Linked DNA regions of Homo sapiens. The protein of the gene in region 7 interacts with the protein of the main gene of each other region in a pairwise test. Each region holds a gene or a part of one and is shown on either strand. Other genes may lie near its edges.

The links.
Region 1: the proteins of BTK (region 7) and ARID3A interact in binary tests that used the Homo sapiens proteins (3 or more experiments, as listed by UniProt).
Region 2: the proteins of BTK (region 7) and TLR4 interact in a two-hybrid assay, tested with the Homo sapiens proteins (one study listed by BioGRID).
Region 3: the proteins of BTK (region 7) and MRPS22 interact in a two-hybrid assay, tested with the Homo sapiens proteins (one large-scale study listed by BioGRID and IntAct).
Region 4: the proteins of BTK (region 7) and PLAU interact in a two-hybrid assay, tested with the Homo sapiens proteins (one large-scale study listed by BioGRID and IntAct).
Region 5: the proteins of BTK (region 7) and ARRB1 interact in a two-hybrid assay, tested with the Homo sapiens proteins (one large-scale study listed by BioGRID and IntAct).
Region 6: the proteins of BTK (region 7) and TLR6 interact in a two-hybrid assay, tested with the Homo sapiens proteins (one study listed by BioGRID).

The regions. Positions count from the first base shown.
Region 1 is NC_000019.10:928,604-932,821, forward strand, and holds part of ARID3A (AT-rich interactive domain-containing protein 3A), read left to right. Parts: intron 1-410; exon of another isoform or gene 411-542; intron 543-658; 5' UTR 659-925; coding exon 926-1,293; intron 1,294-3,814; coding exon 3,815-4,139; intron 4,140-4,218. UniProt on the Homo sapiens protein: Transcription factor which may be involved in the control of cell cycle progression by the RB1/E2F1 pathway and in B-cell differentiation.
Region 2 is NC_000009.12:117,714,172-117,718,389, reverse strand, and holds part of TLR4 (toll-like receptor 4 isoform A precursor), read right to left. Parts: coding exon 3,742-4,218; 3' UTR 1-3,741.
Region 3 is NC_000003.12:139,353,682-139,358,009, forward strand, and holds the end of MRPS22 (small ribosomal subunit protein mS22), read left to right. Parts: intron 1-2,000; coding exon 2,001-2,109; intron 2,110-3,237; coding exon 3,238-3,333; 3' UTR 3,334-3,448; downstream 3,449-4,328. Other genes in the region: COPB2 (coatomer subunit beta'), read right to left, coding at 4,182-4,277.
Region 4 is NC_000010.11:73,913,762-73,918,342, forward strand, and holds the end of PLAU (urokinase-type plasminogen activator isoform 1 preproprotein), read left to right. Parts: intron 1-218; coding exon 219-367; intron 368-1,014; coding exon 1,015-1,155; intron 1,156-1,489; coding exon 1,490-1,638; intron 1,639-1,809; exon of another isoform or gene 1,810-1,860; intron 1,861-2,627; coding exon 2,628-2,804; 3' UTR 2,805-3,733; downstream 3,734-4,581. UniProt on the Homo sapiens protein: Specifically cleaves the zymogen plasminogen to form the active enzyme plasmin.
Region 5 is NC_000011.10:75,271,398-75,275,615, reverse strand, and holds part of ARRB1 (beta-arrestin-1), read left to right. Parts: intron 1-1,404; coding exon 1,405-1,542; intron 1,543-2,637; coding exon 2,638-2,721; intron 2,722-3,891; coding exon 3,892-3,915; intron 3,916-4,218. UniProt on the Homo sapiens protein: Functions in regulating agonist-mediated G-protein coupled receptor (GPCR) signaling by mediating both receptor desensitization and resensitization processes.
Region 6 is NC_000004.12:38,829,109-38,833,326, reverse strand, and holds part of TLR6 (toll-like receptor 6 precursor), read left to right. Parts: intron 1-3,789; 5' UTR 3,790-3,853; coding exon 3,854-4,218. UniProt on the Homo sapiens protein: Participates in the innate immune response to Gram-positive bacteria and fungi. Specifically recognizes diacylated and, to a lesser extent, triacylated lipopeptides.
Region 7 is NC_000023.11:101,358,692-101,362,347, reverse strand, and holds part of BTK (tyrosine-protein kinase BTK), read left to right. Parts: intron 1-107; coding exon 108-175; intron 176-1,592; coding exon 1,593-1,780; intron 1,781-2,197; coding exon 2,198-2,260; intron 2,261-3,000; coding exon 3,001-3,055; intron 3,056-3,651; coding exon 3,652-3,656. UniProt on the Homo sapiens protein: Non-receptor tyrosine kinase indispensable for B lymphocyte development, differentiation and signaling. Binding of antigen to the B-cell antigen receptor (BCR) triggers signaling that ultimately leads to B-cell activation.

The DNA.
Region 1 (4,218 bases), on a different chromosome or scaffold from region 7:
GAAATGGGACCGCCCTGGTGCCCCCTTCTCTGACACCTGTTGGTGCCCACCTTAACCTCCTGAACTCGATTCATCCCTCCTTGAGTGCCATGGGTTGGGGGGGTACTGTTACCCACACTGTTTTGCAGGTAGGGAACCTGAGGTCCAGAGAAGTTGTGGCTTGGGCGTTGCTGTTGAGTTGTGTGATGGGGGGAGGGTTAGCCCAGGGCCCGTATACAACAGGCGCTCAATCTCCAGTCTGGCCTGAGATGGGAGGATACCTAGATACCTGGAGGCCAGGCTGGGCCGCTCCAACAGGGACTCAGGCAGCGACTGGAACTTAGAACCCACCTGACTGGGGCCCGGAGCCCGCTGGCCAATCACAGGCCAGGAACGCCCATTCCCCCACCCTGCTTGTGAAGCAATAATCCAAGATCTCCTGGGGCAGACAGTCTGGCCACAGCGTGTTTCTCTGTGGCCCCGTGCGGGGCGACCTTGCTACCCAGGCCCACAGTAGGCTGTATGCGAAGAGCCTGCGCCTCTGCCTCCAAGAAGGCCTCCAGGTCTGCATCCTGCATGAGATGGACATGAGAGCTGATCCCCAGGGCCTTCATGGGGAAGGAAGGAGGGGGCTTGAGGAGCTCAGGCCTGCTCTGACTGTGCCTTTTTTCCCCCTCAGGTTTCTGCAAATGCGTGAATGAGCCGGATGCCAGCCTCTGTCCCCTGGAGCCCAGCGTGAGGAAGAGGCATGCCCCATCAGCCTTCAGCTTGAGCCCGGCGGCCCCCGCCCCCGCCCCCTGCCACCCTGCACTGCCCCGGCTCCCCCGCGGCCCCCACGCTGCAGTGCGGCCGGGCCCCCTCCCCGCAGGGGCCGCCCCCGCCGCCCACCCCTAGCGCCCGTGGTGGTGGTGGTGGTGGTGGTGGTGGTGGCCCGGGCCGCAGGGCCATGAAACTACAGGCCGTGATGGAGACGCTGTTGCAGCGGCAGCAGCGGGCGCGCCAGGAGCTGGAGGCCCGGCAGCAGCTGCCCCCCGATCCCCCTGCTGCACCCCCCGGCCGGGCCCGGGCTGCCCCCGACGAGGACAGAGAGCCCGAGAGTGCCCGGATGCAGCGGGCTCAGATGGCCGCACTGGCAGCCATGCGGGCTGCAGCTGCGGGCCTGGGACACCCAGCCAGCCCCGGCGGCTCTGAGGATGGGCCCCCAGGCTCGGAGGAGGAGGACGCGGCCCGGGAGGGGACACCGGGCTCACCCGGGCGAGGCAGAGAAGGGCCAGGAGAGGAGCACTTTGAGGACATGGCCTCCGACGAGGACATGTGAGTTGGGGTCTGGGGCAGGGCCTTCTGGGGGCTGTTACTGGCTCTGAGTGTCACTCTGCTCATCTGCAGAATGGGAGTAAGGGTCAGGTCGCGGGATCTCCTTCCTGTAATTCCAGCAGTTTGAGAGGCCGACGTGGGAGGATCACGTGGGCCCAGGGGTTGGAGACCAGCCTGGGCAACATAGCAAGACCCCATCTCCGCAAAAAATTAAAAAATTAGCCAGGCATGGTGGTGCACCTGTGGTCCCAGCTACTGGGGAGGCTGAGGCAGGAGGATCCCTTGAGAACAGAAGTTGAGTTGTGATTGTGCCACTGCACTCCAGCCTGGATGACAGAGATAGACCCAGTCTCAAAAGAAAAATGGTTTTTTTAGCCGGGTGCTGTGGCTTACGCCCGTAATCCCAGCACTTTGGGAGGTCGAGGTGGGTGGATCACCTGAGGTCAGGAGCTCAAGACCAGCCCGGCCAACATGGCGAAACCCCATCTCTACTAAAAATACAAAAATTAGCCAGGCGTGGTGGCAGAAGCCTGTAAACCCAGCTACTCGGGAGGCTGAGGCAGGAGAATGGCTTGAACCTGGGAGGTGAAGATTGCAGTGAGCCAAGAATGTGGGTTTTTTTTTTTTTTTTAGACAGAGTCTTGCTCTTTTCGCCCAGGCTGGAGTGCAGTGGCGTGATCTCAGCTCACTGCAACCTCCTCCTCCCGGGTTCACACCATTCTCCTGCCTCAGCCTCCCGAGTAGTTGGGACTACAGGCGCCCGCCACCACGCCTGGCTAACTTTTTGTATTTTTAGTAGAGACGGGGTTTCACCATGTTAGCCAAGATGGTCTCGATCTCCTGACCTCATGATCTGCCTGCCTTGGCCTCCCAAAGTGCTGGGATTACAGGCGTGAGCCACCACACCCGGCCAACTTTGTTTCATCTTAGTTAACTTAAAGCAACCTAGCCACCGATGGCTACAGCAGATTCAGCGGCAGGGGCAGATAAAATCTGCAGCCGGCTGGACCTGCATAGCGTGTGGGTCCCCCCAGGGCTGGCTGAGGGCTCACTTGCTGTGGGATCCTGGCCTCCAGGAACCCGCATCTTCCTGGGAGGACCTGAGCAAGCAAAGATGCTGGGCGCAGTGGCTCACGCCTGTAATCCCAGCACTTTGGGAGGCCGAGGTGGGAGGATTGCTTGAGCCCAGGAGTTCAAGACCAGCCTGGGCAACCTAGTGAGGCCCCATTTCTACAAAAAGTACAAAAATTAGTCGGGTGTTGTGGCATGCATCTGTGGTCCCAGCTACTCGAGAGGCCGAGGCGGAAGGACTGCTTGAGCTCAGGAGGTCAAGACTGCACTGAGCTGTGATCACACCACTGCACTCCAGCCTGGGCAACAGAGAAGACCCTGTCTCAAAAAACAAAACTGGCCGGGTGCAGTGGCTCATGCCTGTAATCCCAGCTACTCAGGAGGCTGAGGAGGAGAATCGCTTGAACCTGGGAGGCAGAGGTTGCAGTGAGCCGAGATCGTGCCTTTGCACTCCAGCCTGGGCAACAAAGTGAGACTGTGTCTCAAAAAAAAAAAAAAAACAACCAAACAAAACCTAGCAGCAAAGAAGCAGGTGATATCAGGTTGTACAAACAGCTGCCAATGGCTGGGCGTGGTGGCTCACGCCTGTAATCCCAGCACTTTGGGAGGCCGAGGTGGGCGGATCACGAGGTCAGGAGATCGAGACCATCCTGGCTCACACGGTGAAACCCCGTCTCCACTAAAAATACAAAAAAATTAGCCAGGCGTGGTGGCGGGCGCCTGTAGTCCCAGCTACTTGGGAGGCTGAGGCAGGAGAATGGCATGAACCCGGGAGGCGGAGCTTGCAGTGAGCCGAGATTGCGCCGTTGCACTCCAGCCTGGACGACAGAGCGAGACTCCCTCTCAAAAAAAAGACAAAAAAAAAAAAACGGCTGCCAAGAAAGTCTAGGAGGGTGCCGTGGAGGGGCAGTGGCGAGGGTGGGGCGGATTTCAGATGGCGGTGGGAGAATTCTCCCTGTGGAGGGAAGGGGAGGTGGAGCTGGGACAGCATGCATGGTGCAGGATGCAGGAACCAGCCTGCCGTAATGATTCCCTTTTTTTTTTTCCCAAGAGAGTCTTGCTCTGTGGCCCAGGCTGGAGTGCAGTGGTGCCATCATAGCTCACTACAGCCTCCATCTCCTGGGCTCAAGGGATCCTCCCGCCTTGGCCTCCCAGAGTGCTGCCGGGATTATAGGTGTGCGCCACCGTGGCTGCCTGCGTGATGCTTTTCAAGGCCCCAAAATTCACGCTGTAGGGACGGCTTGTGCTGTTCTGGGCTAATTGGAAACAAAGTGGGCGTCACGGGTGCCCCACGCTGTGCTCATGAGCGCTCTCTGCAGTCTGAGCTGGCGGCGGCCGGCTCTTCCTATTTCCAGAGAGGGAAACTGAGGCTGGGCGGGGAGTGGGTCTTTCCTTGGGCTGGGACGAGCCAGCACCTTCTCCCCTGACTCCTGCCCTCTGCTCACCCCAGGAAGCCCAAATGGGAGGAGGAGGAGATGGAGGAAGACCTCGGGGAGGATGAGGAGGAGGAGGAGGAGGATTACGAGGATGAGGAGGAGGAGGAGGACGAGGAGGGGCTGGGCCCCCCAGGCCCTGCCAGCTTGGGCACCACGGCACTGTTCCCCCGAAAGGCCCAGCCACCCCAGGCCTTCCGCGGCGATGGCGTTCCCAGGGTGCTGGGGGGCCAGGAGCGGCCGGGGCCTGGCCCTGCCCACCCCGGAGGGGCCGCCCACGTAGCCCCGCAGCTGCAGCCGCCTGACCACGGCGACTGGACTTACGAGGAGCAGTTTAAGCAGGTGAGTGGGCGCGTCCCGCGTGGCGGCTGAGGCACCTGCTCCTGGGCCAGTGGGGCCCTTTGAAGGCCCACGTTGCACG
Region 2 (4,218 bases), on a different chromosome or scaffold from region 7:
TCATTTGGTATGTATAACATATATGCATATGTATTGGCTTAATGATTCATGGCTTCAACTGAGAAACCCTTGCTAGTGTCAACCACACAGAAAACTGCAGGAGTTTCACTTCCTGTTTTGCCAACTTTAAGCATGAAGCAATTGGGTGTGGAAGAAAGAAAGTGTCCTTGAGTGACCTGGAGGCCCAGGCTCAGGTTTTGTCACTTTCCTACTCTGTGGGCTATTGAAAAATTTACTTCATTGAACTTCAGCTTTCCCATCAATAAAATGGAAAAAGTTAATTATGATTTGCTACCTTACTCAGCTAATGAGATATTCAAATATATAGTTTTGTGAATATGTTTCAAGTTGTAAGGTATCACACAAATTTAAGGCATTACAATTGGCATTAATTTATCCTTATTCCACCCTTTATCCCTCTTAAATCCAGAGGATTTAAAGAGCTAAAAAGAGGCTGGCTGAGGCCTGACTTTACTCTTTCTTCTCCTTCTGTTCTATGCATATAATTTCTTTCCCTGCTTGTCCACCTCACCTGCCATTTCTAGAATTTCCATCTGGGAGAGGGAACTGATAGGAAGGAGGCCAATGTCAGCCTTGAATATTTCGGCCTTGAAATATTCCAAGTTGTATGTTGATCTTCCTTCTCAGAGCCTTGTACATTTGCTTGAATAAACACACTTATGCAGAATTCATATTCAAATATGAATAGAACCACACTTACATGTAGCACGGATATACACAAAATCATACATTTTCAAGCATACTAAGAAACTGAGGCATACATCTGTAGATAAACAATCATGTATGTATGTTAGTTCCTCACTTATCCACAGTTTCACTTTCCCAGGTTTCATGGTCAGTTATGGTCTGAAAATAGGTGAGTACAGTACAGTAAGATATTTTGAGAGAGAGAAAGAAAGAGATCACATTCACATAACTTTTATTACAATATATTATTATAACTATTCAATTTTATTGTTAGTTATTGTTAATCTCTTACTGTGCCTAATTCAGAAGATGAACTTTATCTTAGGTATTTATGTATAGGAAAAAATATTGCATATATGAGGTTTGGTACCATCTGCGGTCTCAGAGATCCACTTGGGGTCTAAGAACGTATCCACCAAGCATAAGGGATAAGGGGAGACTACTGTACAAGCACAAGAGTAGAGAACTCATCTCAAACAGCCATAGACATCCATTTCAAATGGATGTATTCTTCAAGAAATATAATCACACTCTCTTCTATACAGATATGATCATGCGGACACACACACTTTCAAATACACACAGCCCTGATAGGGATACATAGGGATATGTGCACAAATGCACACATCTACTTTCACTAGTACATGAGACATGGAAACACACCCAGGGATGTTCAATCACCCTAGACCTGCTCAAACCAAACACACTCTGAAACACTCAGTAACAAACACTTCTGACTGTGGTCATATTTCCAGTTTTGACAACTGAATTTTGTTGTCTTTTCTTTTTTATAGCTTCATTCAGACATAATTGATATTATAAAACTGCATATATTTAATGTATACAATTTGATGAGTTTAGACATAGTCACATACCTGTCAAACCATCACCACAATCAAGGTAATAAATATATCCATCACCTCCAAAAGCTTCCTTGTGTATATGTATATGGTAAGAACACTTAACATGAGAGGTACCCTCTTAACAAAATGTTAAGTGCATAATACAGTATTGTTCATTATACGAACTCTGCTATACAGCTGATCTTTAGAGCTAATTCATCTTGCATACTATAATTTTATACCAATTAGACAACTCCCTATTTCCTCATTTCTCCCTTCCTCCTTTTCCCTAGGAACCACTGTTCTATTCTCTGCTTCTATGAGTTTGACTATTTTAGAACCTCATATAAATGAAATCAGGCAGTATTTGTCTTTCTGTTACTTGCTCATTTTACATAGCATAATGGCCTCCGGGTTTATTCATGTTGTCATAAATAACAGGATTCCCCCTTTTTTTAGGCTGAATAATATCCCATTGTACGTATATGCACATTTTCTTTGTCCATTTATTTTTCAATGGAAATTTGGGTTGTTTCCATAACTTTGGAAACAGTGATTGTGAAGAGTGCCACAATGAACATGGGAGTGTAAATATTTTCTTGAAATTCTGATTTCAATTATTTTGGGTATATATACAGAAGTGAGATTGCTGGATCATATAGCAGTTCTATTTTTAATTTTTGAGAAACCTCCGTACTGTTTTTCATAACGGCTACACCATTTTCCATTCCCTCCAGCAGTGAAGAAGGGTTCCAATTTCTCTATATCCTTGATGACACTTCATTTTTTTATAGTAGCCATTCTACCTGGTATAAGGTGATATCTCATTGTGGTTTTTATTTTCATTTCCCTGATGACATCCTGATTGTCCTTTTCTTGAATGTTCTGTTTCTGAGGAGGCTGGATGAACATTCTTTTCTGGGAACCTTCTTTATAAGAACCCCATTAATTCCAGACACATTGTTTTCTCAATGATAACATCCACTCTTCCCAAAATGTGGTCAAGGAGCATTGCCCAACAGGAAACAGCAATGTATACTCCCTGCCTTGAATACCTTCACACGTAGTTCTCCTGGCAGTGAGAAGGGTACAGGGGAGGGATCCCAGCCATCTGTGTCTCCCTAAAGAGATTCAGAGGTCCATCAAACATCACTTGTTCTGAAAAAAATAAACTTCTGCTGCAACTCATTTCATGAGGTCACCCCGGGTTTATCAGCCCATATGTTTCTGGAATCAAGAAAAGGTGACCTCCTGAGGTCATCCCACTTCCTTCCTGCCTCTAGCCCAAATTGTCCATGATAAGACCAGGAAGCGGAAATTTTCTTCCCGTTTAAAAGAGTGCCCCCTTTAAACAAATTATTTCAATGCTGCTTTCATGACAGTCATTACTTAGTAGGCAATAACTTTGGAATGACATCGAGTGACAAAGTGACAGAGTGTACTTTTCCATACTTCCTTGAAAAATAGTGGTTAATATGGATATTTGAAGCACGTCTTAAACAACCTTATTTATGATATTAGCTTATAGGCAAGACGTAAAAAAATGAAAACTGGATATATAAAAATAAAAATATATCAGGGGTGATTAGTTAAAAAATAGAACATGCTCGAGAATGACCAGGATGGTTGTGAGCATGTGTTAATCAGGTTTCCTTAGGAATTAGCCACTAGACTTTAACCTCTGTAAGGAGACAGACTTAAAATGGAAGGGGCATCTTGCATCAGGAGCCCCTTGACGACTGCAGTCATCAAGTAGAATTTAAATTGTATTCAATCAAAAAGGAAAAAGTGAACACCCAGTTCAGTCAAAACTACCAAAATGGTTTTATGATGGCTATAACATAATACAATTTCCATTCAAAAGACTCAGGAAAAGAACAATGTCTCTTTCTGTTTTCTCTGTCTTTATTCAACTTGATGAGGTAAGAGTTGAAATGACTTTCTTTGTCATGGGTTCCTTGACTGAGTTGGTTGAAATGCCCACCTGGAAGACTCTGTATTTTAGTCTAGCATTTATTCCCTCTGCACTGGAAGCTCCTTGAGATTAGCAGCCCTGCATATCTAGTGCACCATGGAATTACTCACCCTTAGCATAAGGCCTGACATGTGGCAGCATTTAATACTTATTAACTGAACAAGTGTTGGACCCAGCTGGGCAAGAAATGCCTCAGGAGGTTTTTATTTTTCCTCTTCAGATAGATGTTGCTTCCTGCCAATTGCATCCTGTACCCACTGTTCCTTCTGGATTCCATGATTTACCATCCAGCAGGGCTTTTCTGAGTCGTCTCCAGAAGATGTGCCGCCCCAGGACACTGTCCTCCCACTCCAGGTAAGTGTTCCTGCTGAGAAGGCGGTACAGCTCCACCTGCTGCCTGAGCAGGGTCTTCTCCACCTTCTGCAGGACAATGAAGATGATACCAGCACGACTGCTCAGAAACTGCCAGGTCTGAGCAATCTCATATTCAAAGATACACCAGCGGCTCTGGATGAAGTGCTGGGACACCACAACAATCACCTTTCGGCTTTTATGGAAACCTTCATGGATGATGTTGGCAGCAATGGCCACACCGGGAATAAAGTCTCTGTAGTGAAGGCAGAGCTGAAATGGAGGCACCCCTTCTTCTAAATTCTTTACTAGCTCATTCCTTACCCAGTCCTCATCCTGGCT
Region 3 (4,328 bases), on a different chromosome or scaffold from region 7:
CAATATTCCTAATGATGATGATTTCCAGGCTAGCCCATTTCACCAGCATATGTAGTGTAATAAAAATCAGAGGGCAGAAATATACCTTCATACCCCATAATTGGGGGCTGGTGTTGATGGGGATGCTCAAGTGACTTGTCTTTATGTACGTTATCTCCTGTGAATGAATTTTCCACTTATAAAGTTTCTTGAGTTTAATCATTCTGAAATTGCTTTATTATTAAAACAGTATGTTCTTACAAAAAATTAGAGCAACGCAGAAATGTTTGAAAATTAAAGTTTATTAGGATATATTAATGTATGATATTATAGTATTACTCATCACATGTAAGCTTTACATCTGAAGCAATTCATGCTTACTGGGAGGGAAGTTTGAGTACTTACTTAGCTTTTCCTGCTATTCCTAGGTAAAGGCCCTCCTGTGGTCATTCTGAACAGAAGAGTGAGCTTACTGCAAACCACAGGCTGGACAGTAGAGGGTGCATATCCTCACTGAGTGGAGCTCAGAAAAGAATTAGGATTCTGCACACATTTATTCCAGACTCAGTTCCCACTGTTGGTTTTTATATTGAGATTATTTTAAAATCTTTTCGAAATATAATTTATTTGCTCTTTAAGTATGGGTGGGGTGTTAAGCTAAATTTAAATTGTTCTGTGAGGCACAGGCATTATACTTAAGCATGAACCTAATGAAGCCCTGAACATACCAACAGGTAGCAGTCCAGTTAAGCTCTTTATAAGGCCACATGCCTAAGCTCCAAAGGGAATCTTAATTTTTTATTGGGGAGACATTTCGTTACTACATTTAGTGGACTTTGTTAGATTATAACAAGCACAATAGATTTGTGATGAACATTTTTTATTTTTTTCCCCCTGAAAAGCTTTATGATACAACAGCTCTGTTTTCCTGAGAGATGGCCTTTAGGGTAGATGAGCCTCAGTATAAGCCCAGAGCATTTCTCTAAGGCTACCAAGGCTTGAGGAATTCTGTACTTACTCCCACTGTCACCCTGCTCTTCATCCCCCAGCTCAGGTAAGGGGAACGCAGGGAAGGCTGAAGAGTGCTAGCTGCGGAAGCACTGAATTAGGGTGTCCTCAGCCCTCCATTCCCAACTGGAAGCCAGTAGTTCACTTAGTGTATATAGCAGAGCCTCAAAAGCACAAGCATTTTGAGTGTCGTTTTTCTGTGCCCTCCAGCGATGAGATGGCAAATGGTGGGAAAGTGTCAGCTGTGTGAAAAGATAGTGATTGTTTGGTTTTGCTAGGACAGTTTTAATGTTGATAAAAATTGTTTATACATTTCTGAGAAGTACAGACCAGAAGAACTGAATTCTTGTTCTGTCTTCTTCATAGGTAGTTGTGTGATGCTGAAGTTAAGACAGATTGCTGATGTAGAACCCGATTTTCCTTTTTGTCTGATGTGTGTGTATAATTTCAAATTTGCTTCACTAGGATGCTATTTTACTAATGCGTTCCTGTGAATCCTTTCCTTGGAATCTTAGGGGGCCTCTTGTAGAGGCATTTGTCTGTTAGCAAATGTCACTTAGAGGCAAGTGACTTTGAGATCCCTGTGACCACCACCCTCCTGCTTATGTGGGATGAAGCTGTGTTTCTGTCCTCTGAGTTGGATTAGACTATTACATGCTGGTGAAGTAAGCTGGCCTGGAAATTGTCTACCATTAGGAATGCTGTTTCTGTGAGAAATGGTGCTCTTTTTCCAAAAAGAATATAGCCACATTTGGAATATATTCACTTTCATAAATTGGACACTTCCTGCAGTGACTCCTGCCCTAGCTGCCTCACGGAGTTGGTGTGAGGCCTAAATTAGTCAATTTTCCTGAAAATGCTTTTGAAACTGTAAAACTGAAGGTCCTTCCCCAATCCCTCCAGCCTGAGGAAAGTCTGAAATGTAATTTAGTTTGAAGTTGGCACACACTTTTATAGGACTGTGAATCAAATGAAGAAAACCCCTAGATAACATTAAACCCTTTCATTCTCAGAATCGATGATGCAACCAACTTGGTCCAGCTGTATCACGTGCTCCATCCAGATGGCCAGTCGGCTCAAGGGGCCAAGGATCAGGCTGCTGAGGGAATAAATTTAATCAAGGTAAAGTTTTTTTTTCATATTGGTTGTTTTGTGGTGGTAATTGAGCTGGGAAAAATTCAGAATTGGGTCATAATTAATGGTAACTAAACAGATTTGTGAATATGGGACATCTGTGGTCTTGAAAACATCAGTATGATTTGTCCCCATATTTCTTCAGCCTGGACAATAGAAACAGACAGGGGAGGGGGGTAAAGTGCAGTAAAGTAGGTTGAGTGATGTGGTGCTAGCAGCTGGAGTCCAGAGAAGTTCTGACAGTGCAGGGAGCAGCCCCTTTGTTCTTTGGAGCACTGGAAGGGCTGAGCTGCATCTGAGGTGTTCAAGCCACCAACAGGACAGGGTAGAGGACTAAGTAGCACATGTCCCCCAGAGCAGCTTCCTGTCTTTGTGTGGTCACATCACATCGGGGGAAATGGGCATGTGTCAAGAAGTGGAGAGTGTGATGCTTGTATATCATCAAGCCTTAGCTGTATTGTCATTTTGGAGCTGCATACCTCTCAAAACCATGGGCTTATGTACATTTATCTGTAAGTGCTGAGAGTTGAGATGATATTTTCAGGAAGGGAAGGGGAGGAGATTGTATAATTAATTTCATCTCTTCTAATGCTCAGAATATACATGGTTTTGTGGAACTGGCTTCTATCCTAGTAATACTGTTTGCATGCTGCAAAGCTAAGGAAACAATGACCTGTGATGACATCCTAGGAAGAGTAGAGAGAAACTACAGTACTGATTTTCTTTATGAACCTGATAAAGCGCAATGTTTTTGGAGAAAATATTCTTTAAAGTCAAAAGTTAGTTTGGTAACTCTTAGCCTCCAGATTTCTCTCTAACCTAATGGTTTTTGTTTTGATCTCGAAGGAAGTATTAATATTAATACAATGTCAGGGTCTTAATTGGATACTTCTGGTGTTTAGAATTAGTATTGCTTGAAATGTGTTGGGTATTGTTTTTCTGTCCATGTGTGTTTATTAATTATTGTATAATCGGGGGAAAAATTGTGAAATCTGAAAGCCCTTTTTAAGTAGGACTCTTTGCTACTACAGAAATGCTAATGATGTCTTAAAACTGAAAAACTTTATAAATAGCATATGTCCTATTGTTTTAAAATTTTCTTTTTAATTTAAACAGGTCTTTGCAAAAACAGAAGCACAGAAGGGAGCCTATATAGAACTAACACTGCAGACTTATCAAGAAGCACTCAGTCGCCATTCTGCAGCTTCCTAAAAATATTTTAAAAATACATTTATTTTACTAAATACTGACTACATTTCTCTGTTAATATTGAGCTAAATGTTAAAAAATGGCCAGATTAAAAGATATCAATTTGTAGTTCTCCCTACAAAGCAAAAATTATTACCCTACTCACTTTTCGTAGGCTACAAGGATATTTGAGTGCCTGGTTATGAATTTCTCAAATCATGTTAGATGAGCGTACGGTTAAAAAGTCTGGTGTGTTTTTGTGTTACCAAATAGGGCAAACGTTAACTTAGACAGACCCCCAGCTTAATGAGGTCAGAGGAACAGAGGTTTCACATCCTGACTCCAGAAATGGGTAGCTGCTAGACAAAATCGGGGCAAGACCTGTGGAATGATGCAATGAGGTCAAGAAAAAGGGTTTAGAGAATTACAGCCTGGATATTCAGCTCTAAGAAAAATGTGATTGACAACATTTGAAAATGCAGATTTAGTTATACAAAGAAAAGACAGTGGGGCTGATCCCTAGGCAAGGTGTAGTTTCGGCTCAGCCTTCTAAAACTAGAAGCCTATTTTCATTATTGAGAAAGGAAACAAGTACCTTCATTAATTCAAAAGGTTTTATGAGATATGGTCTAATAGTATGAAAAAAATCAAAGCCCATGTCTGTTTTAGTTAACAAGGAAAACACAGTGATTTAAATGCTGCACATAAACTCTTCTTAAGATGATGTGGGCATTGTGCTCCCAGTGGTCCACAGCATTTACATATAAAAATCTAAGAAGTTTCTCATAGTCCAAAGCACTGTGGTCAGGGTAGCAATCAATACCTATATATAATAATGATCTGTTTAGTCAGGTAAATGGAAAGCATTACAGTCAATCATCCAAAATATCTTCATCCAGATTGATATCTGTTGTGTCAATATCTTCTAATTCCAAATTATCCAAATCTACTTCTAGTTCGAGTAAACTCTGCAGACAAAAGGAAGAGGGTAATTAAGTTTTACAGTACTGTTAAAGGAA
Region 4 (4,581 bases), on a different chromosome or scaffold from region 7:
CGGCCCTGGGTTTCTCCTCTTCGACTCTTCTGCCCCACCCCAAGCACATCCCTTTCTCCTTCCCAGCAAAGTGTTCCGCCTCATTTCTCCCTCATCTGCCCCTGTCCATGCAGCCCATGGCCTTGGGGACAAGTCGTGCTTTGAGGCCTCTAGGGAGGGAAGGAAGAAGTGGCAGATTTCATGGGACTAAGCTGTTTGATGGGTATCTTCTCCCACAGTGATTACCCAAAGAAGGAGGACTACATCGTCTACCTGGGTCGCTCAAGGCTTAACTCCAACACGCAAGGGGAGATGAAGTTTGAGGTGGAAAACCTCATCCTACACAAGGACTACAGCGCTGACACGCTTGCTCACCACAACGACATTGGTGAGGGGGAACCCCGCGACTACTGTGGCCATAATGGCTTGGGGAGAGTGGGACCCAGGGAGAGACTGGAGCTGAGGTTGAAGCTGCCCGGTGGGGCAGGGGTGGGGCGAGGGACCTTGAAGCCTCGATATACATGACAAAGGGAGTGGCAGGGAAGAGTTCCATGAAGTCTGAGGGGCCTGGTGCTCCTCTGGAGAGACCCTGAATTTCCCCAACAAGTAGCCTCTTGCGAGTGGAAACAGCCCTGTGGGTATATGGCTTGGGCTGGGAAGGCCCTGTTTATATGAATTAGAAAAAGACACACCTTCCTTTGTGGGATGCAGCCTCTGTCTGTGCTAGGATATAGAACTTGGAGAATGGAGCCTTGGGATGGATTCCAGCCTAACTACCTCAGCTGGGAGTTTTTGCAGAAACGACCTGTACAGCTGTATGCAGTGGCTCTGGCCATCCAAGCCTTTTTCAACACCTGGAACAAAGCCCTTGGGGCATGGGGCAGGGGAGGTTTCCAGGTGATAAGCGACCAGCAGACCTCCCTGGATGACTGACCTAGGGATAGGCATAGCTACTTCCTCGGCACTTGGAGGGGACAGATGGGGACCGCCTAACCAGTAGTGATCTTTCTCCTCTGACCCTCTGTCCTCCCCCAGCCTTGCTGAAGATCCGTTCCAAGGAGGGCAGGTGTGCGCAGCCATCCCGGACTATACAGACCATCTGCCTGCCCTCGATGTATAACGATCCCCAGTTTGGCACAAGCTGTGAGATCACTGGCTTTGGAAAAGAGAATTCTAGTAAGTGACAATTGCGACTGACTTAGAAGGTCCTGAGGAGTGTTTTGACCTGAAAATGAGCCCAGCGTGATCAAGGGAAGACTGCAGAGTTAGAGGTGGGAGCACTGAGGCGGTGGCAGATGGGTCCAGGGATGGATGAAGAGTGTTGTTTAGGGAGCGATGGGCTGCAAAGGTAAATAGATGGTAGGGGCTATAGGTGGAGTAAAGGCTCAGATTTGCATGGAAGAGAATAAGGGCCTTCCCTGGTAGAGATACTTTATGGTTCCCCTCTCTGGCAGACTCCCAGTGGACAGATAAATCTTGATGCAAACGCCTCCCTGTTTTCTCCACCTAGCCGACTATCTCTATCCGGAGCAGCTGAAAATGACTGTTGTGAAGCTGATTTCCCACCGGGAGTGTCAGCAGCCCCACTACTACGGCTCTGAAGTCACCACCAAAATGCTGTGTGCTGCTGACCCACAGTGGAAAACAGATTCCTGCCAGGTGAGTGTTCCAAGCATCTCTCTCCACCTCTTCCATATCTCCCCAGAGCTCCTGGGCTTGTTCCAGCCAGCTTAAGGGTGTCTCTCTCTAGCCAAAGCCCTAAGTAGCCAGAATCAGGAGCTCAGGTCTTTGAGGGTTTAAACCAGTCCTTATGTGTTTGCCAGACATTACCAAAAAAATCCCAGCTCTGCGCTAGTCACTTCAGACTGGGGGCACGAGATCCTAGAAAGAGGAAACAGTAAAAGACAATGTAACTCAGTGCCCAGGGTGTGTTGTGAACTATAAATGATCAGGTGTTCAGGAGAGGGAGGTGAGTGCCAACCTGAGGGTCAGGGAGGGGAGGCTTTAAAGGAAATGTGACTTGATAGGCATTTGAAGAGGCAGAGGGAAGAAAGGAAGGTGTTTCAGTTGAAAGATACAAAACTGAGAAGGAGGCTGGCATATTCCGGGTGGGGAGGAGAACTAGGGTCTGGGAGTGTGGATGGAATAGTGGCAGATGACAGGGCTTTTAAAGCCAAGCAGGGGATTTTAAACTTGATGTGGTAGAAAATGGGGCTGCGTCAGGCACAGTGGCTCATGCCTGTAATCCCAGCACTTTGGGAGGCCGAGGTGGATGGATCACTTGAGGCCAGGAGTTTGAGACCGGCCTGGCCAACATGGTGAAACCCTGTGTCTACTAAAAATGCAAAAAAAAATTAGCCAGGTGTGGTGGTGCCTGCCTGTAATCCCAGCTAATCAGGAGGCTGAGACATGGGAATCGCTTGAGCACAGGAGGCAAGTTTGCAGTGAGCTGAGATCACGTCATTGCACGCCAGCCTGGGCGACAGAGCGAGATTCTGTCCTCCCCCCGAAAAAAAGAAAGAAAATGGGAAGTCGCTAAGGACTTTGACTGGGAAACTCTTCCCTCTCTCTGGTATGGTTGGGTGATGGGATCAGAAATCCCCTCCTCACTTCTCTAGGGCTCATCTTTTGTATCTTTGGCGTCACAGGGAGACTCAGGGGGACCCCTCGTCTGTTCCCTCCAAGGCCGCATGACTTTGACTGGAATTGTGAGCTGGGGCCGTGGATGTGCCCTGAAGGACAAGCCAGGCGTCTACACGAGAGTCTCACACTTCTTACCCTGGATCCGCAGTCACACCAAGGAAGAGAATGGCCTGGCCCTCTGAGGGTCCCCAGGGAGGAAACGGGCACCACCCGCTTTCTTGCTGGTTGTCATTTTTGCAGTAGAGTCATCTCCATCAGCTGTAAGAAGAGACTGGGAAGATAGGCTCTGCACAGATGGATTTGCCTGTGCCACCCACCAGGGCGAACGACAATAGCTTTACCCTCAGGCATAGGCCTGGGTGCTGGCTGCCCAGACCCCTCTGGCCAGGATGGAGGGGTGGTCCTGACTCAACATGTTACTGACCAGCAACTTGTCTTTTTCTGGACTGAAGCCTGCAGGAGTTAAAAAGGGCAGGGCATCTCCTGTGCATGGGTGAAGGGAGAGCCAGCTCCCCCGACGGTGGGCATTTGTGAGGCCCATGGTTGAGAAATGAATAATTTCCCAATTAGGAAGTGTAACAGCTGAGGTCTCTTGAGGGAGCTTAGCCAATGTGGGAGCAGCGGTTTGGGGAGCAGAGACACTAACGACTTCAGGGCAGGGCTCTGATATTCCATGAATGTATCAGGAAATATATATGTGTGTGTATGTTTGCACACTTGTGTGTGGGCTGTGAGTGTAAGTGTGAGTAAGAGCTGGTGTCTGATTGTTAAGTCTAAATATTTCCTTAAACTGTGTGGACTGTGATGCCACACAGAGTGGTCTTTCTGGAGAGGTTATAGGTCACTCCTGGGGCCTCTTGGGTCCCCCACGTGACAGTGCCTGGGAATGTATTATTCTGCAGCATGACCTGTGACCAGCACTGTCTCAGTTTCACTTTCACATAGATGTCCCTTTCTTGGCCAGTTATCCCTTCCTTTTAGCCTAGTTCATCCAATCCTCACTGGGTGGGGTGAGGACCACTCCTGTACACTGAATATTTATATTTCACTATTTTTATTTATATTTTTGTAATTTTAAATAAAAGTGATCAATAAAATGTGATTTTTCTGATGACAAATCTCCCTGGTGCTTGTATGGGAAGGAGTTGGAGTACATAAAAAGGAGAAAATAACAAAGGTGGACTGCACCCTAGAGTTTCTTATGGGACTGCATCTCTGGACTTAATGGAGCTTTGGGAGGTAGAGGTTAGGAGAGCTGTAGGGCAGGGCCACCACAGCACTTAATGTATACAAAGTTTCCCCAAACCACAATCCCATGGCTGTGTAAGTAGTGTACAGGCTTAGTGTCAGCTCCCAATTGCCTCCTTAACCTGATGCCTTTGTGCAGTGCACATCTTGTACAGCTGTACATGGTGGTCTTCTTTAGGGTTAACTCCACAACAGTCTCTTCACTCTGCCCCCAACAATCCTTGAGCTGACCTCAACCAAGAAGAACACCTGTGGCCAGGTGTAGTGGCTCATGCCTGTAATCCTAACATTTTGAGAGGCTGAGGTGGGAGAATCGCTTGAGCCCAGGAGTTTGAGACCAGCCTGGGAAACTTAGTGAGACCCTGTCTCTGCAAAAAATAAAAAAATTAGCCAGGTGTGGTAGCACATGTCTGTAGTCCTAGCTACTTGGGAGGCTGAGGCAGGAGGATCCTAAGCCAAGGAGTTCAAGTTTACAGTCAGCTGATTGTGCCACTGCACTCCAGCCTAGGTGACAGAGCAAGACCCTGTCTCAAAAAAAAAAAAAAAAAAAAAAGAAGAAGAAGACCTGTAAGTGAAAATTGCTGGCCAGGCTCAGTGGCTCACGCCTGTAATCCAGCACTTTGGGAAGCCGAGGTGTGTGGATCACCTGAGGTCAGGAGTTTGAGACCAGCCTGACCAACATAGTGAAACCCCATCTCTACTAAAAATACA
Region 5 (4,218 bases), on a different chromosome or scaffold from region 7:
GAGCAAAAGCAAGTAAAAATTGGACAATCAAAACACCCTATATATGATGGATGTGATCAAGCAAGTAAAGTTTTAATTGTTGAGCCTAGATGGTGGGTATATGGGTGCCCAAATAGCTTCATTTATGGTTTATGTGTAGCTATAATTTTTTCTTTTTAAAATGTGTTTAGAGACAGGGCTGGTGCTCACGCCTATAATCCCAGCACTTGGGGAGGCTGAGGCAGGCAGATCACTTGAGGTCAGGAGTTTGAGACCATCCTGGCCAACATGGCAAAACCTCATCTCTACTAAAAATACAAAAATTAGTCGGGCATGGTGGCGCGCCCCTGTGATCCCAGCTACTTGGGAGGCTGAGGTAGGAGAACTGCTTCAACCTGGGAGGTGGAGGTTCCAGTGAGCCAGGATCGCACTACTGTACTCTAGCCTGGGCGACAGAGCAAGACTCTGTCTCAAAAAAATAAAATAAAATAAAATAAAATAAAATAAAATAAATTTAAATTAAATTTGTTTAGAGACAGAGTTTCACTCTGTTGCCCAGGCTGGAGTGCAGTGGTATGATCATGGCTCACTACAGCCAGCCTCGAACTCCTGGGCTCAAGTGATCCTCCTGCCTCAGCCTCCCAAGTAGCTAGGACTACAGGTGTGCACCACCATATCAGGCTAATGTTTAAAATTTTTTGTAGCGATGGGGTCTTGCTATGTTGCCCAGGCTGGTCTCAAACTCCTAGCCTCAAGCAATCCTCCTGTCAGCCTCTCAAGTTGCTGGGATTACAGGCATGAGCAACTGTGCCTGCTGTGGCTGTACTTTTTTTTTTTTTTTTTTTGAGATGGAGTCTTGCTCTGTCACCCAGGCTGGAGTGCAGTGGAGCAATCTCGGCTCACTGTAAGCTCCACCTCCCAGGTTCATGCCATTCTCCTGGCTCAGCCTCCTGAGTAGCTGGAACTACAGGCGTCCACCACCATGCCCGGCTAATTTTTTTGTATTTTTAGTAGAGACGGGGTTTCACCTTGTTAGCCAGGATGGTCTCCAACTCCTGACCTCGTGATCTACCCGCCTCGGCCTCCCAAAATGCTGGGATTACAGGCGTGAGCCACTGCACCCGGCTGGCTGTAATTCTTTAAATAAATGTGCTTTTTAGCACTGTGCTGCTTGACTAGGATAATCTTTTAGAATATCCGAGATTCAGTCCTGTTTGTGCGTAGAATGTAGATGTGCCTCTTTTGAGTGGCAGTGGTCTCCTTGCCCGAGCTGGGCTGGCCCAAGTGGTCCGTGTGTCTGGGGGACAGAGGTTGGGAGAGGGAGACTTGGAGCAGGCTCAGACTAGATATTCTGCTGGGCTGGAGATCAGGGCTGGGGTTGGCTCTGGGGAGGGCCATCTCCACAGCTGCTTCCTTTCTTCCCAGTGACACTGTGGCACCCAGCTCGACGTTCTGCAAGGTCTACACACTGACCCCCTTCCTAGCCAATAACCGAGAGAAGCGGGGCCTCGCCTTGGACGGGAAGCTCAAGCACGAAGACACGAACTTGGCCTCTAGCACCCTGTGAGGACCTGCCCTCCTAGCCCTGGGCTCCTAGTGCATCTTGCCTGATGGGGCCACACCCTCCTTGGTCCCCCCAGTTCAAAGACAAGGCTCAGGCTACCCTCTCCATAGCCTTGTCAGGGCCTGTCCTCAGGTGCTTGACTTGTCAGGGAAGCTGCCTCCTTACTCCCAACCCTACCCAGGGGTGACTGAGAGAATAAGATGGACCACTAGGCCAGCTCACTCAGGCAGTGCTGGGCTCTGCTACCATGCCTGGGGGAGGGCAACCTGGGAAGGCTTCCTGCAAGAGGTGGCAGCTTCTGACGTAATGCCTTCAGTCAGATGGGGTGTCCCTGAGGAGAGACCAGGGTGGTGAGCTGGGTTAGACCCAACATGGGGTGCCCCTCCAAGTCAGGGGTCCCAGGGCATCTGGTCACTCCTGCTGCACAGTCATCGTGGACGCCTCTAGGCTACTCTGCTCCAGCAGAGCCCTGGCTATGGGGATGCCATCTTGCCCTCTTGCCAGTGTGGTCCTTCAGTGGGGCTTTGGCCTACGTCTAGAGCAGCCGCCACTCCCAGCACAGACTCAGCTCTCTTCAGCAGCCCCTGCACAGCCTCCCACTTACCTGAAGCTTTTTGCCCTGTCTCCACCCTGGCTCACACCCTACCCATCTTCAAGACCCAGCTGAAGCACCACCTCTGCGGAGAAGTCCTTCTCTGATGGCCCCCACCCCACCCCACCCCAGCTGCCTCGCCCTCTGTGAACTCCCCGTGTGGCCCTTTCTGCCCATGGGTTGCTGAGAGAAGCAGAATCCATCTGAGGGGAGGAGGAGCCTGGCCCTCATGGCGGGGACGCTGGCCTGGGCAGGGAGAGGGGCTCAGCAGGGCCACACAGTGAGCGAGTCTCACAGTCAGACTTGGAACCGGGGCTCTGGGTCCCTGCTACCTAAGGGCACTGCTCGCCTTCCTCATCTCCACTGGGCTCTATTGGACATGGTAGCTGAGTGGCTAGCCAGATGGGGGATGGACGGCCACTGCCCCCCAGCATACCCACCCCTGAGGTGTCTCGCCCACCTGGCAAGGCCCCTGAACTGGCTCCCCTGTGTCACTTTGCAGGTTGAGGGAAGGTGCCAACCGTGAGATCCTGGGGATCATTGTTTCCTACAAAGTGAAAGTGAAGCTGGTGGTGTCTCGGGGCGGGTGAGTGCTCCAGCCAAGCCCAAGACCCCGGAGTGCAGAGGGGAGCGTCCCAGGTGCCCACAGGCCCCTGCCCCATTCTGCCTGTTTGCAGCCCTTTTAGCTGCATCCACCTTGGAGGAGGAACCTCCTGTCCCTTCTTTTCCTCCCTTCTGTTCCTCTTTCTCCCCCGCCCGCTTTCCCTCTCTTCCTTCCTTGGCCCTCAGCCCCTCTCTTACCCCCACCCATCTCTTTCTCTCTCTCCTCCTCCTCTATCCTAGGTCTGGGCTCGCACTGAGGATTGGCCATGCCCAGGGGACGGCGTCCTCAGAGTCTTTGCTGTGGGGTCCCCAGGGGTGCCATCTCCTTATCACACTTTGGGCATAGCACCCACCCCCATGCATGCCCAAGCTGATTTTCTGAGGAAACAGCTAAAAGGGCTCAGAACCCAGAGCTGGATTGGGGATTTGCTAGTCAGCTTTCCCATTTTACAGATGGTGAAACAGAGGCCCAGACAGTGCCCCAAACATTGCCTGAAATCTCCTCTCCTAACTCAGGTCATAGTGGTGGACCAGACTGCCCTGCCCTGGAGCATAGTTTGGTGGAAGCTCAGGGAGAAAAACAAACAAACAAACTACTGTGTTTCTTTTTTGTAACTTAATTCATAAATTTCTATGAAAAGATTGAAAAGCTAAATCCCATTAGACATTGGGTCTCCTTGATTATTAGAAGAATGCCTCTTGGCAGGTGGCAGTATGTAATCCTGACCTTATATAATAGGACATCTCAAAATTACAAATCCCAAATCCTGTGTCTGGTGACCTTTCAGGACCCACAGTCCCTCAAACATTCTTGGCAACCCCGGAGTCCTTCCCTCTGCCTTTAGATAGTCCGGCCTCCCTTGGGACAGGCAGCACTGGGGTTAATTTTTACACTGCCTTGACAGATGAGGATCCTGGGGCTCAGGGGTTTGCTGAGCTGGGTCTGGATCCCAGTCCCTCGGGGCAGGGCTAATGCCATTTCGGTGTATCCCTGAAAGAGCAGTCAGGGCTGTGCAGGGGGGTGGGTGGGAGTGTGTCCCGTGGGTCTTCTCTATCCGGGGGACAGCAGAAGTGGTGAATGAATGTGCTTTTTGTTTTCTTCCTCTCTGAACTCTCTCCTGACCACTTCTCCTGCCTCCTCTGACCCACCCAGCCTGTTGGGAGATCTTGCATCCAGGTAAATTCCTCCCTTCCACCTGGTTCACCCACCTTCCTGGAGGGCCTGGAGCCCATTGGCTTGACTGACCAGAATCACAGGGCACTGGGTTGGAAGGAATCTTAGTGGTCATTTCAGATAGCCAGGTTCAGGTGTGAGCTGGGAGACACAATTTCTCCTTAACAAACCTCACCTTGCTCTTCCATCCCACCTGAGTGACAGGGATCTTTACAGAGAGCAAAGCCTGATTACACTGATACAGGGAGTGGCCCCCAAGAGAGCTGTCTGAATTACTGATCACCTGAATTATAGGAGCTTTTGGAG
Region 6 (4,218 bases), on a different chromosome or scaffold from region 7:
TGGTGGCAGCAGTGGCCTAGGCTTGCCGGTTCTCAGGCCCCTGTGTGAAATATGTGGGCACTCGTGGTGATGGGTCCTTGAGCCTCCAGGAGATTTAGTTGGATGCTTGCAGTGGCAGTAATGGACCAAGTGGGAGGGCAGGTTCTTGGGCCCCTGCACAATTTGTGTGGCATTAACTGTAGCAGTAGGAAAAGTGGACCAACCCTCTGGCCCCCAAGTGGTAGACACAGGCAGCAGCAGGCTGGGCAAGCCAGTCCTCAGGACCCCGTGTGGCATGCATGTGCCACACCCTGTGTGGCACTGCCCTGCCATGGCAGTGGCAGGCAGGCACTAGCAGCAAAGGGCATGGTGGACCTGTCCTCAGGCCCCTTGGAGGCATGTGTAGATGTGTCGTAGTCCTGCTGCTAGGGAAGATGGGGTTGCTGTAAGTGGCGGTGGCCCTGGGCAGGTAACTCTGAGGCTCTGGGGAATGCACACTTTGACTCCCTTTGTCCCAGGGAAAGCCACTAGGTGCACTGTGCTTCCTGTTTCCTGGGATGCGGGGCATTGCATGGGCTAGAGTGCTGGGGACCTAGCTGCACTGCTGATCTTAGCTGGCATTACAATGCTGTAGCCCTCTAGGTGGACGTAGGAGAATATCAGTGGGGCTTCAGGGGTGTGGAGATTCAGGGTTGTTGGGCCCCAGAACAGGATGTGTATGGTGAGGGCTGGGCTCTTAAAAGAGCCTTATGCTGAAGCTGTTTGGGTCTCAGGGTATGGGGTATGTGGGACCCAATGTGAAGTCCCATTGTGGAACAATGTGATTGCATATATTCCAGACAGCCCCAGGGCATGTGAAGGCCAAGGAGCTAGCTCATGGCTAGGATTACAGGAGTCCATAGTGGAAACATTGACCTCTGAAGATCTCTCAGTTAAACTTTCCCTGGAATGGGAAGTTCCTCCTGGTTCTGAGCTAGTCCCAGCTGGGCTGGCTGCTTCACTTCCCTCTTCTCCCATGCCTCAGAGGTGCACTGTCACTTCTCCGCTGAATTCCAGTGTTCTCTCTTAGATGCTCATTCAATGTGTGATTATCTGCTCACTGTTTTGGTCCTTCTTTGCAGAGGGGGTGAGGGCTAGGTGCCTCTATTCAGCCATTTTAATGCTTCTCCGGCTCATTTTTTAATTGTTCAATAGTATTTTATTGTGTGAATGTACCAGTTTGTTAATATTTTTATCTATTGAGGGATATCTTGTTGCTTCCAATGTTTGACAGTTATGAATAAAGCTTCTATAAACATCCACATGGAGGCTTTTATGTGGACATAAATTTTCAGTTCTTTTGGTTAAATACCCAGGAATGTGATTTGCTGGATTGTGTGATAAGACTATGCTTAGTTTTATAAGAAACTGCATTCCATAGTGGCTGCACCATTTTGCATTCCCACAAACAGTGAAAGAGAGTTCTTGTTGCTCCACATCCTCACCAACATTTGATGTTGTTTTTGGATTTTACCCATTCTCATAAGTGTAATGTAATTTCATTGCTGTATTAATCTGCAAAACCATGATGAAATATGATGTCAAATAGCTATGTATATGTGTATTTGCTCTTTACATATCTTCTTTGGTGAGGTGTCTGTTTAGATTTTTGTGCCCATTTAAAAACTAGGTTGTTTGTTTTCTTATTGTGGAGCTTAAGAGTTCTTTGCATAGTTTGGATACAAGTCCCTATCATATATGGGTTTTGCAAATATCTTCTCTGAGTCTGTGGTTTGTCTTTTTCACTCTCTTGCAGTGTCTTTTGCAAAGCAAAAATTTTAATTTTAATGAAGTCCAACTTAACAGTGTTTTCTTTCTTGGATTATGTTTTTGATGCGTATCTCAAAAGTCATCACCAAATCCAAAGTCACCTAGATTTTCTCCTATGTTATCTTCTGGAAATTTTATAGTTTTGCATTATACATTTAGGTCTATGGTTAATTTTGAGCTGATTTTTGTGAAAACTGTAAGGTCTGCGTCTAAATTCTTTCTCTTCTTCTTCTTTTTTTTTTTTTGCATGTGGAGGTCTAATTGTTCCAGCACCATTTGTTGAAAAGACTATCCATTCTCCACTGAGTTGCCTTTGCTCGTTTGTCAAACAGCAGTTGATTATTTTTTTGTGGGTCTATTTCTAAGCTCTGTATTCTGGTCATTTGACCTATTTGTCTATTCTTTCACCAAAACCACACTGCCTTGATTGCTGTAGCTTTGTAGCAAGTCTCAATGTTAGGTGGTGTCAGTTATCTGGCTTTGTTCTTTTAATTTCTTTTTTTTTTTTTTCCTGTGAATGAACAATACTTTCTGTTTCTTTGCATGGCTAATTTTTTTAAACAAATAAATTAGAGATTCCTTTAATGCCAAGTTACACAATCAAAAAGATAACAATCTCTTTCCATTTGCTTTTTGCAAGGTTTGTGTTATTTCAGGGCAAAACGTAGAGCAAGTCCACTGGCAAATCTGGGGGCTAGTGATTATTTTGTTTTGATTTTTATTTTTTTAAATCAGACATTTTAAACACTACAATGAGGTAACTCTAGAAATCAAATTCTGTCCCCCTTTCCCAGAGGTGTTTTATTTATTTATTTATTTATTTTTTGACAGGGTCTCATTCTGTCACCCAGGCTGGAGTGCAGTGGTGTAATCACAGCTCATTGGAGCCTCGACTTCCTCGGCCCCAAACAATCCTCCCACTCAGCCTCCCAAGTAGCTGGGACTATAGGCACACGCCACCATGCCCAGCTAAGTTTTGTATTTTTTGTAGAGATGGAGTTTCACTATGTTGCGCAGGCTGGCTTTGAACTCCTGGACTCAAGCAATCCACCTGCCTTGCCCTCCCCAAGTTCTGGGACTATAGGCTTAAGCCACTGTGCCGGGCCTCCCTTTCCCAGGGTGTATTGTTGCTTCTTGTGGCTTATAGTTGCTTGTTTAATGACTTTTCTAAATAATTTTTATAAAGATTATTCTTTGTCATGTGTGGCTATTACATTTTCTGTCCAGTTAGCTTAGTGGTCAGCCAGTAACTTGAGATTTCTTTAAACATCTGGAGCAAAAACAAAAACCAAATAAACTAGCAAAAGCAAAAACAAAAACACCCCTGATCTTTGCAGGTTGGCTGTGTTGGATCACTTTCTCAATGCTTAGCCAGTCTATTCACAGCTCTGCTTTAGCCTTCACTTTCTGCATGCATGGAAGCTAAAGATGAGCCAGAGGTGAAGTTTAGGATTTTCTCAGGTCTCCTCTGAACATGCGTCCAGCCTTGGGCACGTGAGTGGACTTCTGGACTCCCTGGTATATACAGAGATTTCCTCAGCCTTTTTTCTCCCACATATCTTTCTCCATATATCTTTGCATATTTCCCAGACTTTTTGATGTGTCTGCTGCTTGCCCCCTCTGTTAGCCCTTGCTCAGGTGGCTGCAGCTAGTATGTTTGCCTTTAATTGTTTACAGCAAACACCAGCCAGAAGGCTGTTCCAGCCCTGAGAAAGTTCTAAGGTGTACAAAACAAAGGCAAGCCCCTGAGTGTGAATCCCTCAGGCAGCAACCAGACAGGTCAAAACACACAACCACAATTCTTTGATAACAAGGCCTATATTGCCCCTTCTGGCATGAGCAAGCTATATAACTGGTTATAAAAAGTATTACATTAAATTATGGGGACAGAAATGACTCTACTAGTGAATGAAGAAATCATTTAGATTTTATGGTTAGTAAGTGGAGGTTTGAGAGTAACCATCCGATCTTTATTAATCTTAGTGTATATTATATTTCTAGAATTTGGACTCATATCAAGATGCTCTGAAGAAGAACAACCCTTTAGGATAGCCACTGCAACATCATGACCAAAGACAAAGAACCTATTGTTAAAAGCTTCCATTTTGTTTGCCTTATGATCATAATAGTTGGAACCAGAATCCAGTTCTCCGACGGAAATGAATTTGCAGTAGACAAGTCAAAAAGAGGTCTTATTCATGTTCCAAAAGACCTACCGCTGAAAACCAAAGTCTTAGATATGTCTCAGAACTACATCGCTGAGCTTCAGGTCTCTGACATGAGCTTTCTATCAGAGTTGACAGTTTTGAGACTTTCCCATAACAGAATCCAGCTACTTGATTTAAGTGTTTTCAAGTTCAACCAGGATTTAGAATATTTGGATTTATCTCATAATCAGTTGCAAAAGATATCCTGCCATCCTATTGTGAG
Region 7 (3,656 bases):
ACTTGCCTAAAGGCACTCAATATGGACGGCAAAGTCCCTGACCAAACCTGTCCTTGGCCCCTTTCCTAAAGTGCATTCCATATCATCACTGGCTTCTTGTTTTGCAGGCTTAAAACCTGGGAGTTCTCACCGGAAGACAAAAAAGCCTCTTCCCCCAACGCCTGAGGAGGACCAGGTATACAGGGAAACTGGGTGCTGCCACTGCTTAAATGGAAACTTATAGTCAAGCCCTAAGAACACACTAGAGTCTTAGAATTACCCTGGGACTTGGCAGTGTTAATTGGTATTCTTGCTAAGATGGGGGATTTGTTCTTCTAATTAGGATTTCCTCCTCGATGGAAAGATAGAAGGCTCTCAGCAACCATGTAATCCAATCACCTGTTTAGAACAAAACCTGATTTTTTTAATGTAAAGTTTTTGTTGTTGTTTTGTTTTTGCTTTTGTTTTTGTTTTGAGACGGAGTCTCGCTCTGTCGCCCAGGTTCGAGTGTAATGGCATGATCTCGGCTCACTGCAACCTCCGCCTCCCAGATTCAAGTGATTCTCCTGTCTCAGCCTCCTGAGTAGCTGGGATTACAGGCATGCACCACCACGCCCAGCTAATTTTTGTATTTTTAGTAGAGATGGGGGTGTCACCATGTTGTTCAGGCTGGTCTCGAACCCGCCTCGGCCTCCTAAAGTGCTGGGATTACAGGCGTGAGCCACCGTGCCCAGCTGGAAAGTATTTTCAAACATACAGTAAAGTTAGAAGAATTTAACACTTAATACCAACATACTCAACACTTAGCACTAACACCACCTATCACTAACACTTCAGAAGTTTTTTTTTTTTTTTTGGTTCCTTCTTGAGGGCTAGAAAGCCCTTTCTCACATATTGTAAGTAAGTAGAGCAGGTATTATTATACTCATTTTACAAAGAAGGAAACCAAGGTTCTGAGCCACTTAGTAGATTCACGTACAAGTTTAGTGCCAAGCCGGTTTCCTGACCTTAGCTATAAATGGTTTTTGTCTAGTGAGCTTTAAAAATAGTAATGTTTGGGTCCCATTCCTGAGAGTTTGATTTTGATGTAATTGGTCTGTGAGGAAACTGACTAGGTATTGGAATTGGTTTTTTGTTTTTTGTGGGTTTTTTTTTGAGACAGTCTCACTCTGTCACCCAGGCTGGAGTGCAGTGGCGTGGTCTTGGCTCACTACAACCTCCGCCTCCTGGGGTCAAGTTATTCTCCTGCCTCAGCCTCCTGAGTAGCTGGGGCTATATGCACACACTACCATGCCCAGCTGATTTTTGCATTTTTAGTAGAGATGGGGTTTCGTCACGTTGGCCAGGCTGGTCTCGAACTCCTGGCCTCAACTGATCCGCCCGCCTTGGCCTCCGAAAGTACATTGGAATTTAAAAGTTCCATACATGGTCTTTATATGTGTGCAAGGCTGAGAACTCCTGCACTGGTGCTTAAAAATGGTTGTTGAATGACTGCTGAGTAATATTTTAGTATGCCTGATTTGGGTGTCTTGAGTAAGCCAGAGAGTTGGGAGAGAAGAGAAGAGTGCTTGGTATCTTGACAAACCCTCCTACCTTTTCTCCTAACTACATAGATCTTGAAAAAGCCACTACCGCCTGAGCCAGCAGCAGCACCAGTCTCCACAAGTGAGCTGAAAAAGGTTGTGGCCCTTTATGATTACATGCCAATGAATGCAAATGATCTACAGCTGCGGAAGGGTGATGAATATTTTATCTTGGAGGAAAGCAACTTACCATGGTGGAGAGCACGAGATAAAAATGGGTGAGTCCACACCAGCCCTTCCTGAGCCTGGTGCCTGCCCACTCCCTACACGCAAAAAGTGCTGCGGCATAATTCCCGTGATCAGCATCCTCATCAGAGACTGTTCTTCCCACACCAGACTGAACATGCTCTCCCTCCAAGTACTTCCCAGCGTGCAGCTCCCTATACATGGCCTCTGCCACATCTCTGAGCCTCTGTTGTTGGGCACATATAACCAATGCAACATGTGCATAAGCTCTGCACCTCACTGGCTCACTGCCTAACCATGCATCAGAGACATGATTGTCTTTGAGGGAGGTGCATGATACATATACCTCCATTTGAGATTTGTTCTGAGCTCAGGGACGTGGGCATATGAATCTGTCTCCTGGAGGCTGGGGAGGTGCTGGATGAACTGCCACATTGTTTCCTTCACAGGCAGGAAGGCTACATTCCTAGTAACTATGTCACTGAAGCAGAAGACTCCATAGAAATGTATGAGTAAGTATGTTTATGTCAGTCCACAATCTTCCAGGAGGAACTCTCTCTCTCTATATATATATATATTTATTTATTTATATATATTTTATATATATTTATATATATATATAACACACACAAGTGTATATATGTATACATATGTATACATACACTGGTGTATATATAGGTATATTATGTATACATACACAAGTGTGTATATATATATATACACTTTTTTCTACTTTCAACATATTTTTTATTTCAAGATATATATTAAAATTAGTACCATCTGAATCAAATGATGCCACCACCTCAAATTAGTGTATCTGTCTTACCTTTACCCCCCAAACACCCTCCATTTATGAGAGCTGGAGAGGTCACCATGCCCTCAAATCCAGAAGAATCACACTCAAAGAAAAAGGAGTTGACGACCTGATGAAAGAATTAAAATGTCAAACTGCTACTGTTGTCCTTTCCTCCCTAATCATGGAAGTGGATTGTTCTCAAGTGCCCTAGTCCCTGATCTCTTCCCTGCAACTCCCTGCTGCTTGCCTTTGCCTGCTACTCTCCATTTCCATGAATCTTCAATGCCAACCTGGGTTTGGGAAAGGGATACAGTGTGCTATGCACATGACAGATGCTCAGTAAATAGGGTTTGAGTGAGTTGACTGAATCACTGACATGGACAAGCCCTGGAGGGTGCTGTAACCTCCAATCTGCTTATGACCAGGAGCCACTCAAGCAGCACTCTCCCTTCACAGGTGGTATTCCAAACACATGACTCGGAGTCAGGCTGAGCAACTGCTAAAGCAAGAGGTAAGTGTGGAACCACTAGCACACAGCATTCTCCTTGCATAAGTGAGGATCTTGAACTGAGGGCCTGTTCTGCCCCCTACCTTTGGGCAAGGCAGTGTCAAAGCTGCCATCGTCTGGGATCCCAATTACACCATTTTTTTTGTTTTTGTTTTTCTGAGACGGACTCTCGGTCTGTCACCCAGGCTGGAGTGCAGTGGCGTGATCTGGGCTCACTGCAACCTCCGCCTTCTGGGTTCAAGTAATTCTCCTACCTCAGCCTCCCAAGTAGCTGGGATTACAGGCACATGCCACCACGCCCGACTAATTTTTGTATTTTTAGCAGAGACGGGGTTTCACCATGTTGGCCAGGCTGGTCTCGAACTCCTGACCTCAGGTGATCCGCCCACCTCGGCCTCCCAAAATGCTGGGATTACAGGCATGAGCCACCATGCCCGGCCTGCACCTTTTAATATTAAAAGCAATGAGGCTGTAGCTCAAGCGTGGAACTTGGCAGTAAAATCAGGGGTTGTTCTATTTTCTCTCTCAAGTTTGGGCAGGTGGGATGCAGGTGTGAGCACCACTTCCTCCTACAGACAGCTTCTTTTTCGTTGTTTCAGGGGAA